2 linked regions of the Homo sapiens genome follow. The protein of the gene in region 1 purifies or fractionates together with the protein of each later gene. This does not show direct contact. Each region holds a gene or a part of one and is shown in the gene's direction. Other genes may lie near its edges.

Region 1 (7,037 bases):
AATCCCAGCTACTTGGGAGGCTGAGGCAGGAGAATCGCATGAACCCAGGAGACAGAGATTGCAACGAGCCAAGATCATGCCATTGCACTCCAGCCTGGGCGATAGAGCAAGACTCAGTCTCAAAAAACACCAAAAAAACAAAAAGCCTCTGAGAAATATACAATTTTTAGTGAAGGTGGCTGGGTACAAGGAGATTAGTAGAAGTGCTTGACTGGAGCAGTTGTGGCCAAAGTATAGCTTCCTTGTGATGAGACACAGGAAGAGATGTCTAGACTCATGTTGTGTGCATATTTCATGGCAGTATGTGGGAAACCCCTGAGAGATTTTAGATCTTTCTTCCCACCTTGGTCCCCATCCCTCACATATCCTCACAAAGTCATAAAATTCTCATGTGGAAGGCGTGATAGAAGGAATTTTTCTTCCTGAAAAGTGTTATCAAGCTTGCAAGGGAGAGAGCTATTTTCGGAGACCTTATAGGGAAGAAATCCTAGTCCTAGAGCATCATATTCTTATACCCTGTTATTTTTACCTTTGTCGAAGATCCAGATAATGTAAATTCTCCATGATAGCAAGGACCTTGTCTGTTTTGCTCACCATTGAATCTCCAAATGTTCAATAGTTAATGAATGAAAAAAGTCTACTTCCAGATATATGACTGGAGAACAAAAGGAGTATCTGATAATGTAGTCCAAACTAAATGCAAGCAGCGAAATGATAAAGGAAGGATGTTAGCTTGGGAGAAGGGGAACAGGTCATTTAATCTGGGAAACTTTCTTGGAGGAGGTGATTCTTGAGTTAGGTTTTGGTGTGGGCTGTGTGTCTGAAGATAAGCAGTGTCTAAGGGGGTAGACAACGTGCAGCAAAGCATTTAAGTCAGACTGAATAAATTATGTCAGATAAAGCACAGTAAGTCTTTTTTTGTAACATTATGAAGAATTTTTATTCTCCCATCTCTATTTTCACCTCTCCCTAAATAAAAAGATTAACTTGCTTTGCAACAGCAGAGATTGACAGTACTTGAGTTTTGGAAGTACGATAAGGGTCAGAAAATTTGAATTGGTGTTCTGACTGAATCTTATACAAGCGTCGTTTCCATCGGCCAATCACTTGGTCTTAGTTTTCTCATTTGTAAAATCAGGATAATAATCCATGATCGTTGGGAGAACAAAGTTATATAATGCATGTGAAAGTGCATACCTCAATATGAATGTGCCTACCTCAATGTGTCACACATAGGAGGACTTCAGCAAATACAAAATTATTAAAACGTTTGTCTGCAGATCTTTAAAACATATTTTGATTCGTTTATCATGAACTCTAATATTTGCTTGACTCATCTAGATGACTCATGGCATTATGTTTAAATTGATCAGAATCAAAATTCTAGATAATTTTCTTTCAGTCAGTTTAATGTTTTCTGGTAGAAATGAGGCCTAATTGTATTACTGCTTAATGTTACAGACCACAAGGAGTGCTAGAAGCCTCAAATTTTTGAAGCTCAAAGTAAGGGATATGTGTAGCTGAAAATCTGAGCCTTTAAGCTTTTTTTCTCTACGTAATTTGTTTTTGAAGAAATTGTCTTTGCCTGTAATGTCATTTATCTATTCATTGTTGTGATGAAATAAGGGGTTTTCTGGTTGTTAAGAAAAAATTTACCAAAAATATTTTCTGTTTTTAGTGATGTGACTATAAGCCATGAAGATCTCTACCATCTGTGTTTTATTATAAAATTCAGTATTTCTTGAGCAAACAAACAGACATCTGCATTATTTCTTATCTAAGCTTTTTGTGCCAGTAGCTGTTCATTTATGAATCTCAGAATTTCATTATACTTTGTGAACTCTTTGTAGTGTTTTTGATCCATGGAGCAGTCTGTCCTTTGTATAATATTTGGAAGAGAATTTTATTATAAAAAGACTAAGAAGAGTCTTGAGCCTTTTTATTATACAAAGACTAAGAAGAGTCATCAAATGATAAGCCAGTTACCTACTAATTTCCATATTCAAAAAGGACTGAAAAAAAGAGGAAATGGTTTCAGAGCTTGACTTTTTTCAAATAAAAAGGAGAAGCTTTTTGATTTAGAGTTTTTGAAAACTTGATAGATTCAGAGGGAAATTGTTATAGGTCATATTAATAGCTAATGTGCGTCAACTGCTATATACCAGGTACTGTACTACTCTAGAAGTACTTGACATGTCATCACATTTGATCCTGACAACCACCCCGCAATCAGGCTATTTTCTTTTTTTTAAACCTGAGCAACTGACAGATTAAATAAGTGGTGGAGCCAGGATTTGAACTAAACCTGAGGCACAGAGAAGTTAAGTAGTAGGTGGTAGAGCCTACTAAAAGGATTTAAACTTGAGGTTTAACCTGACCTTTGACTTTGGAGCCTATCCTTTTAACCATCATATTATATACTGCCTTGTATAATTTATTTGCAGTTGCTCCTCTTGATACGTCTTGACCTTGTGATCTTCCTGAGTCTGTTTTAGTTGTGTCATTTACAAAATGCACTTTACTTTATAAGAAGATGGAATATAGCCTTGATTTTTTTTCTCTCATTTTACTTGTATTTGACTGACATCCTATTTTTAAATCTTAAAAATACTTAGAGTAAAGCAAATATTTATTTTATTGTTCATCCAGTTGCCATTTTCTCACTGGGGAATTTCAGAGAATTTCGGAGTAACTGGAAATTAAAGAACATAATAGATAACAGTATTTAAAGCTAAGTTGTTATAATTAAAAAATAGTTTTAAAGAATAAGGCTGATTCACAGAATTGGTATGCATTTTTTTTTAGTGTTTTTTTTTTTTTTTTTTTGAGATAGAGTCTCACTGTGTCACCTAGGCTGGAGTGCAGTAGTGTGATCTTGGCTCACTGCAACCTCTGCCTCCCGGTTTCAAGTGATTCTCATGCCTGAGCCTCCTGAGTAGCTGGGATTACGGGTGCATGCCACCATGCCCAGCTAATTTTTTGTATTTTTAGTAGAGATGGGGTTTCACCATATTGGCCAGGCTGTTCTCGAACTCCTGACGTAAAGTGATCCACCTGCCTCGTCCTCCCAAAGTGTTGAGATTACAGGCGTGAGCTACCTCCTCTGGCCTTTTTTTTTTTTCTTCTGATACAGGGTCTTGAGCTGTCACCTAGGCTGGAGTGCAGTGGCACTCACTACCATGGCTCACTGCAGCCTCGACCTCCCAGGCTCAAGTGATCCTCCTGTCTCTGCCTCCCAAGTAGCTGGGACTACAGGCGAATACCATCACACCTGGCTAATTTTTAAGTTTTTTTTTTTTTTTTTAGAAACAGAGTCTCACTATGTTGCCCAGCTTGGTCTTGAACCCCTAGCCTCAAATGATTCTCCCACCTTGGTCTCCCAAAGTGCTGGGATTATAGATGTGAGCTGCCATGCCAGGCCTATTTAGTGATATTTGAGGGACACAGATCTGTACAGTTGAAATCTGTCCTGTTGAGATGACCACCAGTAAGGTAATTTTTGCTTTTTGGCTGCCAAATGCCTACATATTAGCAGGAATAGTTTGTCAGATTACATAATTTTTTACAAGGAAGGCTGGGGCCCATGTGGAAATTATGGAATCTATGTTGGTATATTTTGATGGGATGGAAGTATGGTAGATCTGGAGAGAGAGAAGTTCAATCTAAGTAACATTATTACCGGGTAGAGTAATGAGGTGGGGTGCTTTGGATGTGAGGGCACAGGTACATTGTTCAAGTGGAGAGTAGGATGAGGGACTTCTGGAGACTAGCTTTGCTTAGTGTGTAATTTTGTGCATTGTTATGATTATAATAACTTGTAAGATCAGCAATTTGGAAGTAAAGAAAAGCAGTGCTGTGCATCATAGTGTGGAGTTTGTAATAGTTCTAGGCTGTTTTGCAAGATGTAGGTGCTTTACAAATATCCATTGGTAGTAATGGAAGTGCTCTGTCTTATCACCTATTTTAGAAATCTGGAGAGGCAGAATAGCACGAACCCTGGAGCCAGACTGCCAAAGTTCAGAACTGGTACAGCCACTTACTAGCCTATTGCACTGGCCCTATGCTGACTTGGGGTGGCCAAAAGGGAAGAAAATGGCATATTTAAGCAGAGAGGGGGCCAGAGATAGCACTCTGTGAGTTTTCCATGGTTCTTACATGGTCTGAAAGAGATCTGGATGTTCTCACATATGACTAGTGAAGGAAATAGAAGTTAGTAGAGTGAGAGCCAGGAAGCCTGTCATTAGGCTGCTATTGTGAGGGAGGGACCATGTAGTAGACAGAGGTTGTGGGAAGGGCAGATTCATTTCATTGCCCACAAAAATTTGTGCTCCCTCTTGCTTGCAACATTTTTTTTTTTTTTTTTTTTTTTTTTTTGGAGACATGGGGTATCGCTCTGTTGCTCAGGCCAGAGTGCAGTGGCAGGATCTTGGCTCACTGCAACCTTCGCCTCCTGGGCTCAAGTGATTCTTGTGCCTTAGCCTTCCGAGTAGCTGGTACTACAGGGATGTGCCACCGTGCCTGGCAAATTTTTTGTATTTTTGGTAGAGATGGGGTTTCACCATGTTGCCCAGGCTGGTCTCTAACTGCTGAGTTCAAGCGATCTGCCCGCCTCAGCCTCCCAAAGTGCTGGCATTACAGGTGTGAGCCACTGTGCCTGCCACTAGTTTTTCACTAGTGAATGTGAATAGAAATCAATTTGTTGTCACTTCTGGGTTGAAGTGGCAGAAAAAATAGGTATTCTTTCTTCACCTTCTCTTTTCTAATTCAAGGGCCAGATGCAGAGGTTTAGGCTCTTAAGGGATAGTAAAACCATAAGATTGGAATGTTCTACAGTCCCTAAATTTACCATGTGAAAGAAATTTGTGTACCAAATAGGAATACCCACAATGGATTGTAATATTAATGAGAAATTTTAATTGTGTGAAGCTACCGAAAATCTGGGGTTTATTTGTTAAGCAGCTAGTGTTGCCTTAAGTATAAGCCAGGGACTGGATAGACGAGGTAGTCGAGACTGTAATAATATCCGTACCAGCAGGAGCTGAGGTGGGTGGGGCCAAGTTAGGAGATCCTCTGGATACTGTTCCAACATATTCATCAGCATGTGCCATTGTGACTCTGTGAGGGCCAATATTCAAACCTTAGAGGCCTGTGAGGATCCCCAGGGCAATCCATGGGTCTGTATTCAGGCTAATCATAATACTCCAGATGCCCATGAAAGCTTTATCTTACGCCCAGTCACCATGATAAGAATGAGGAACAGAGAAAATCTATACAAGTCTGAAGAGTTTTCTTAAAGTAGGGTTTCTTAACTTGACTCTGTTGATATTTTGGGCTGGATAATTCTTTGTTGTGTGTTCCTGTGCATTGTAGAATGTATAGCACCATCCCTGGCCTCTACTCACTAGATGCTAGTACCATCTTTCTTAATTGTGACAATGAAAAATGTTTCAAGATATTGCCAGATGTTCCCTGGGGACAAGGTCACTCTCAGTAGAGAACTACTGCTTTAAAGATTGAGTGAATGAGTGAATCTGAAAGAAATGATTTTAAATGGAAAGAAACTATTATCCTTAATTAAAGAACTTTTTCCCCTTTTAGGGGTTGGGTAAGGTTCATGGGGAGCAGTTCATTTCTGTATATCCAATAAAGGAAGCTATGTTGTTTTTATAAAACATCCTAGTTTCTAGTGTGTGTGTGTGTGTTTTCCTCTCTTCCTTGATATACTATATATATGTTTGTATTATTTTTTGAGTGACAGAGTCTCCTCCTGTCTCCTGCACTCCAGGCTGGAGTGCAGAATTCCTGAGCTCAAAGGATCCTCCTGCCTCACCTTCCCCAGTAGCTAGGACTACAGGTTTGTGCCACTGTGGCTGGCTACTTTATTTTTTTTGTACAGACAGGGTTTCGCTATTTTGCATAGGCTGAATTTGAACTCCTGCCTCCCAAAATGTTGGGATTACAGGCATGAACCCTGGTACCCAGCCTTAATGTTGATTCACCTTTCTCTTTATCAGCTTTAGAAATTACTTGAATTTTCCATTTATTACCTTGTGATTATTTCTTCTAAACCAGTAGCTGTACTTTTTATTGGCTAGACTAAGCTTGTCCAATCCCTGGCTGGTGAGCTGCGCACGGCCCAGGACAGTTTTGAATGCGGCCCAACACAAATTCATAAACTTTCTTAAAACATAAGGAGATTTTTTTGTTTTTTAAAGCTCATCAGCTATTGTTAGTGTTAGTGTATTTTATGGGTGGCCCAAGACAATTCTTCTCTTCCAGTGTGGTCCAGGGAAGCCAAATGATTGGACACCCCTGGCCTAAACAAATACACGTTTTTTCCCCTGTAATCTCAGCTGTCATGTCCACAGGTTGTCTCTAAATTATGAAAACCAATAAATAGTGTTGATACCATGACTGTGTAAGTATTATTTAATGCTAAGCCAGATAATGTGCTTAGATGATTATTCCTTTTCTGTCCCTGGGCTGCCAGAAGAAACATGTTGATAATATAGAGAATTAGTAGACTTTATTTATTTTATCAATTCTGACCATCAAATTAAAAAAAAATTTGGATATGACCAAAATCTAACTTTGGAATTAAAAAAGTTTTTGAATAGGACTTCCTGTTTTTCTTAGTGTCTTAAATTGCCCTCTTTTCTTGTACTATATGCCTCTATTATAGCCTCCCCTACACCCCAGCCCCCCCACACCCCAACTCTTCAGCATACTGCCTTTTGTGCTGCATTCTCTATTTATCTGTATTTGTCTGTAACTCTGCCTCCATTTGGACTCTTCTAGGTCTTTTCTTGTAACTTCCTTTCTCCTTACTCTTGAATTGGATCCATTCTGTTATACATATTTTTTTTTCCTTTTTTTTTTTTGCATCTGCTTGATCTGTTTATTGGAGTACATCTTCAAATAACTCTTTGAAAAAGAAGTATGTATGAGAGGCAAACTTTCCGAATTCTGTGTAAAAAAGTCTCCATTCTATTCTCACAAATGATTGATAATTTGGCTGGGTACAATATTGTTAGTTA
Region 2 (7,037 bases), on another chromosome or scaffold:
CTCACTGCAGCCTCAGTCTTCTGGGTTTGAGAGTTCACTGAAGCCTCCACATTCCGGGTTCAAGTGATCTTCCCAGCTGGGCTTTCCAAAGTGCTGGGATTAGAGTTGTGAGCCACTGTGCCTGGCCTTGGGATTCTTTTTTTTTTTTTTTAACGCTCTCGGATGAGTCATGCTTTTAAAAAGGCCAAGTATATCATGGGTCCACTATGAAATAATAGATGTAATAGCCAGTAATGGTGTGTTAGTAGTCCTAGTTGTGTGTGTATAATTATTAGTAGTTCAAGTTATTTAAATAAAAACAAAAAATTAGAAAGTGTAAGGCAGAAAAGAAAAAATATTCCCTGGGCTGTTCTAGTAGGTGGAGTAATAATACCAAAGAAAGAGAAGATACTGTTGCTTAGTATGTGATAAGGAAGGCATGCTTGATGTTGTCAGTCATTTTAAAATACTTTACTTATTCTTGGTTGAAATGGCCAGTAGCACTTTTTTTTTTTCCACTAGTGTCTTGTATTTCGAAGTTTCAGATGGAGACCTTGGTTCCTTAGAAGTTTGTGGTGTTCAGCCGGGCGCAGTGGCTCACACTTGAAATCCTAGCCCTTTGGGAGGCTGAGGCAGGAGGATTGCTTGAGCTAGGAGTTCAGTACCAGCCTGGCAACATAGTGAGACACCGTCTCTAATAAAAAGTTTGTGATGTTCATAGATTAGATTTTCTTTTTTTTTTTTTTTTGAGACGGAGTCTTATTCTGTTGCCAGGCTGGAGTGCAGTGGTGTGATCTCGGCTCACTGCAACCTCTGACTCCCTGGTTCAAGCAGTTCTTCTGCCTCAGCGTCCCAAGTAGCTGGGATTACAGGCACGCACCACCTCGCCCAGCTAATTTTTGTATTTTTAGTAGAGACAGAGTTTCACCATGTTGGCCAGGATAGTCTTGATCTCCTGACCTCATGATCTGCCCACCTTGGTCTCCCAAAGTGCTGGGATTACAGTCATGAGCTATTGCGCCTGGCTGCTGCTGCTGCTGCTGCTGTTGTTGTTGTTGTTGTTGTTTGAGACGAAGTCTTGCCCTGTTGCTCAGGCTGGAGTGCAGTGGCACAATCTTGGCTCACTGCAACCTCTGCCTTCTGGGTTCAAGTGATTCTCCTGTCTCAGCCTCTTCATCACCTTGGCCAGGCTGGTCTTGAACTCCTCACCTTAGGTGATCTGCCTGCGTCGGCCTCCCAAACTGCTGGATTACAGGCATGAGCCATTGTGCGTGCCCCATAGATTTTCTTACACAGAAGTAGAGAGAATAGGGTAATGAGTCCCTGGGTATACATCACCCAGCTTCAACTGTTCCCACCCTTTTTTTTTTTTGAGAGACAGAGTCTCACTCTGTCACCCAGGCTGGAGTGCAGGGGCACGATCTTGGCTCACTGCAACCTCAGCCTCCCGAGTTCAAGCGATTTTCCTGCTTCAGCCTCCCAAGTAGCTGGGACTACAGGCATCCGCCACCACACCCGGCTAATTTTTGTATTTTTTAGTAGAGACAGGGTTTCACTATATTGGCCAGGCTAGTCTCGAACTCCTGACCTCGTGATCTGCCCGCCTCGGCCTCCCAAAGTGCTGGGATTACAGGCGTGAGTCACCGCGCCCAGCCCCGCCCTTTTATTTTTAGGGCACAGGGTTGGGAGGCTGGCATATTTAAAAGCAAATCCCAGATACTGTCATTTCAAATACTTCAAGCATGTCTGTGATAAATACTTTTTAAAAACTAGAAGGTTTTTTTTGTTTGTTTTTGTATTTAAATGTATAATCTTTCTTTTGCAAGTAATTCTGACACTAAAAAGAAAAACATAAAAAAATTCTTTCTTGCCACCTTTTCTTGATATATCAGTCTCAGATTATAAATTTGTAGCCATGCTCTAAGCTTTGCACAGAGTGAATGCTTTGTAAATATTTAAATAAACTAATTTAGGTATTGAACAGGAATTAACATTTCAGTGTTGCAAACCATAAACCCCCTTTTAGACTCATAGGTAAATATTTTTATACTCTGCTTTTAACCTTTCACTTAACTGTATACTTGAGATAGTGGACTACACCATCTCTATTGTCTCACTGTTGATAATGACTATCATTATCAATGATAATGATAATGAGGTGCTAGTGCTAGTGCTAGTGTTATTCTTTTAGCAGAGAAATAGGCTCAAAGAGCTAAAGTAAGTTGTCTGATGTTATATCCTAAGTGGTAGAGCTGGTGTTCAGGAAGTCCTTTTTGACTTAAAAGACCATACTCTTTCTAATGTACCATGGGTGGTTGTAGCTAAGGACATTAGTCTGTGACTGTTGAGAATGCCATAGGTTTATAAATGTATGCTAAATGGGACACAAGAACAACTGAGTTGTAACAGTGCATTGAAGTATTTGTAGATTTCTCAGGCAAATGCGTTATCACCCAACGCTAATTTAATTAGTCTGAGTGCATCATAAACCGAATTTCTGCTTTATGAAAAGAGTTTCAAATCCCAACTCACCTTAAGCAGGATTTGTACTAGAACACTGGAAGCATTTAGTTGTATTTCCTTGATATTTATATTGAATCCATGGAACATCACAAAAAGTGAACTGAGACTAGAGCTGTCAGTGCCATTAACTAACAAATGACTGTAAGCATTTTCTCTCTCTGCTTCCTGATGTGTTAAATGAGTAGTTGGGGTATACTTTTTTTTTTTTTTAATTTTAAGAGAGACAAGGTCTTGCCGGGTTGCCCAGGTTGGTCTCTAACTCCTGAGCTCAACCGACCCACCCTCCTCTGCCTCCCGGATGCTGAGGTTACAGGCGGAGCCACCACACCCTGCCCCTACAGTACGGTTTCTAAGATCTCTGCTGTCTAACTTATATGAGTCGTTTCCTGTATATATTCTCTGGGTATGTATATATTGTAAAGTTTCTAGGATTATATATGTACCAGTTCCTGATTCCATATTCATTCATGGAGGGAATCAGTGACAATGAATAATTCAAACAGCAATTAATCCAAACATTGTTTGGCTTTAGGATATATTATGATTGTTTTGTTTGAGCCAATATGGAATTTCCTCCTATGCTGTCTGTCTGGTTGGAAGCAATCTAACCACATAATCAAGTCATTATTGATCTTCTATTATACACCTATCATTGTGGAAGGACACTAGTACTTTAAGACACCACCATTGCTTACAGTTGGTTTGATAAGTGAGATTGTTGTGATCGAGAAGCGATTATATAAGAGTGTTAATCACTTGATGTCATACAGATAGTAAATTATTTTAGGGCAGTGTAATAAGACAAAATTAGGATTTAGATTTGGGTGGAACACAGCTCTGCTATTCTTAGCTTGAAATTTCTGTCACTGTTTTTTTTTGTTTTTTTTTTTTTTTTTTTTTTTGAGGTGGAATCTTTCTCAGTCGCCCAGATTGGAGTGCAATGGCGTATTCTTGGCTCACTGCAACCTCTGCCTCCTGGGTTCAAGTGATTTTTCTGCCTCAGCCTCCCGAGTAGCTGGGACTGCAGACATGCGCTACCACACCCGGCTAATTTTTGTATTTTTAGTAAAACGGGGGTTTCGCCACACTGGCCAGGCTGGTCTTGAACCTCTGACCTCAAGTGATCTGCCTGTCTTGGCCTCCCAAAGTGCTAGGATTACAGGTGTAAACCAGTGCACCCGGCCTCTTTTCTTAAGCAAGGACTGTCTACTTTAGCTTTGTCCTTGTTCTTTTTTTTCTTTGAAAGTCTTACTCTATCTCCCAGGCTGGCTGGAGTGCAGTGGCATGATCATGGCTCACTGCAACCTCAAACTCCTGGGCTCAAGCTCTCCTCCCACTTCAGCCTCCCGAGTAGCTGGGACTATAGGTACACAACACCACTTAGCCTTGTTCTAAGCGGAAATATACGTGAACTCATGAATTTGATGTGGTAGGTATACTTCTCTAATATATATGAAACTAAATATATGACTATAAAATATAAGTACCAACACATACCACCTGAAATCATCTTGCATATTACCAATAGCACATGCTTCAGAAAGCACTAACACTGGATTATCTTTCTCTGTTGTTTTTTTGTTTTGTTTTGCTTTTGGTTAAGACGGAGTCTCGCACTGTCACCCAGGCTGGAGTGCAGTGGCGCGATCTCACCTCACTGCAACCTTTGTCTCCTGTATTCAAGCGATTCTCCTGGCTCCACCTCTCTAGTAGCAGGGATTACAGGCACCAGCCACCATGCCTGGCTAATTTTTTTTTTGTTTTTTTTTTGAGACAGAGTCTAGCTCTGTCACCCAGGCTGGAGTGCAGTGGCGCGATCTCGGCTCACTGCAAGCTCTACCTCCCGGGTTCACGCCATTCTCCTGCCTCAGCCTCCCGAGTAGCTGGGACTACAGGCGCCCACCACCATGCCCGGCTAATTTTTTGCATTTTTAGTAGAGACGGGGTTTCACCATGTTGGCCAGGATGGTCTCGATCTCCTGACCTCGTGATCTGCCCACCTCGGCCTCCGAAAGTGCTGAGATGACAGGCGTGAGCCACTGTGTCCGGCCGAGGCTTGGCTAATTTTTGTATTTTTAGTAGAGACGGGTTTTCACCATGTTGGCCAGGCTGGTCTTGAACTCCTGACCTCAGGTAATCCCACCCGCCTTGGCCTCCCAAAGTGGTGGGATTACAGGCGTGAGCCACCGCTCCTGGCCTTGGATTATCTCTTAAGATTCTTCCAGCTCCGGTGCTTTGTGATTTTGTGATCTGTGGGAATACAAAACGTGTGCAAGAGAGTCGTAGCACAGGTGGAAAGGGGAGATGCTTTGGGGAATTATTAAAGGGGCTGTATTGACCGAAATAGAGAACTTGAAAATGTTTTCAGTCCAGGTCATGAAGGGTCGTATATTCACCTCTAGCTGGTTCTCCAAGTAAAGTCCAGAAATGGGATGTTTTTATCCCTACCTCAGATAAAAATATTACAGCAGATAATTGAGAATTACCTGTAAAGTAGCATTGTCGTTTATGGCAAATACTTTTTAAGAAATCTCTTGATGAGAATGCTTTACAGTATATAGTTGCTTAATAATTCATTGTTCTGTAGAAGGAAATAAAATACTTGAACAGTCCAAAAGATGAAATGCTGTATTTCTCTTTTGTGCATTTCTCCTAATGTGTTCAAAACAAATTTACTCAGGAACAATAACAAAAATCTCCTCTTTATATAAGTTATATATATATATATTTATATATTTGTTGTTGTTGTTTTGAGGTGGAGTTTCGCTCTTGCTCAGGCTGGAGTGAAGTGGAATGATCTCGACTCACTGCAACCTCCACCTCTCGGGTTCAAGCCATTCTCCTGCCTCAGCCTCCCGAGTAGCTGGGATTATAGGCACTTGCCAGCACACCCGGCTAATTTTTGTAGAGACGAGGTTTCACCATGTTGACCAGGGTGGTCTCAAACTCCTGACCTCAGGCAATCCACCCACCTCAGTCTCCCAAAGTGTTGGGATTACAGACGTGAGCCACCGCGCCCGGCCTTATTTATATATTTTTAAAAGCAGCAGTTAAAATGGCTTATAGGCTATCATGTAAATTAATTTTTCTTCTTTCTTTTTTCTTTTTTTTTTTGAGATGGAGTCTCATTCTGTCACCAAGCTAGAGTGCAGTGGCGCGATCTCGGCTCACTGCAACCTCCACCTCCTGGGTTCAAGTGATTCTCCTTCCTCAGCCTCCCGAGTAGCTGGGACTACAGGCGCCCGCCACCACGCCCGGCTAATTTTTTGTATTTTTAGTAGAGACGGGGTTTCACCATGTTGGCCAGGATGGTCTTGATCTCTTGACCTCGTGATCCGCCCGCCTTGGCCTCCCAAAGTGCTGGGATTACAGGCGTGAGCCACCGCGCCCGACCAATTTTTCTTCTTTCAGCAAACATTTATTGAAACCTGTGTGCAAGACACTGCTCAGTGTTCAAGTATACTACTGCTACTTATAATGGTTAGCATTTACTGAGGGTTTTCTGTGTGCCCTGTTCTGAGGGACTGGATGCTTTCTAGGCGTTATCTCATTTAATCTTATGAGAGATGTTTTATTATTATCATTCTTATTGATTTTGTTTGTTTGATTTTGTTTTCGAGACAGAGTCTTGCTCTTGACGCCCAGGCTGGAGTGCAGTGGTGTGATCTCAGCTCACTGTAATCTCTGGCTCCCGGGTTCAAGCGATTCTCCTGCCTCAGCCTCATGAGTAGCTAGGACTACAGGTACACACCACCATGTCCAGCTTTTTTTTTTTTTTTTTTGAGGCAGTCTCACTTTGTCACCCAGGCTGGAGTGCAGTGGTGCGATCTCAGCTCACTGCAAGCTCCACCTCCCGGGTTCACGCCATTCTCCTGCTTCAGCCTCCCGAGTAGCTGGGACTACAGGCGCCCGCCACCATGCCCGGCTAATTTTTTGTATTTTTTAGTAGAGATGGGATTTCACTGTGTTAGTCAGGATGGTCTCAATCTCCTGACCTCGTTATCCGCCAGCTTCGGCCTCCCAAAGTGTTGGGATTACAGGCGTGAGCCACTGCGCCCGGCTAATTTTTGTTTTTTTAGTAGAGGCAGGATTTCGCCATGTTGGCTATGCTGGTCTTGAACTCCTGACCTCAGGTGATCTGCTTGCACCACCATCTATCACCGGAGCTTTTTTTTTCTTTTTTCTTTCTTTTTTTTTTTTTTTGAGATGGAGTCTCACTCTGTCATCCAGGCTGGAGGGCAGTGGCATGATGTCAGCTCACTGCAACCTCAGCCTCCCTGGTTCAAGCGATTCTCCTGCCTCAGCCTCCTGAGTAGCTGGGACTATAGGCGCACCCCACCACGCCCAGGTAATTTTTGTATTTTTACTAGAGACGGGGTTTCGCCATGTTGGACATGCTGGTCTTGATCTCTTGACCTGGTGATCCTCCCGCCTCGGCCTCCCAAAGTGCTGGGATTACAGGCGTGAGCCACTGTGCCTGGTGAGTTTTGTTTTGGGTTTTTTTTTTGTTTGTTTGAGACGAGGTCTCACTCTCT

What was found. Proteins that work in one complex are often made in the same cells at the same time.
Region 2: the proteins of OSBPL8 (region 1) and GLG1 purify together in Homo sapiens (co-immunoprecipitation; 3 studies listed by BioGRID and IntAct, with this or other methods). This does not show direct contact.

What each region holds. Positions count from the first base shown.
Region 1 is NC_000012.12:76,549,766-76,556,802, reverse strand, and holds part of OSBPL8 (oxysterol-binding protein-related protein 8), read left to right. Parts: intron 1-7,037. UniProt on the Homo sapiens protein: Lipid transporter involved in lipid countertransport between the endoplasmic reticulum and the plasma membrane: specifically exchanges phosphatidylserine with phosphatidylinositol 4-phosphate (PI4P), delivering phosphatidylserine to the plasma membrane in exchange for PI4P, which is degraded by the SAC1/SACM1L phosphatase in the endoplasmic reticulum.
Region 2 is NC_000016.10:74,597,099-74,604,135, reverse strand, and holds part of GLG1 (Golgi apparatus protein 1 isoform 3 precursor), read left to right. Parts: intron 1-7,037. UniProt on the Homo sapiens protein: Binds fibroblast growth factor and E-selectin (cell-adhesion lectin on endothelial cells mediating the binding of neutrophils).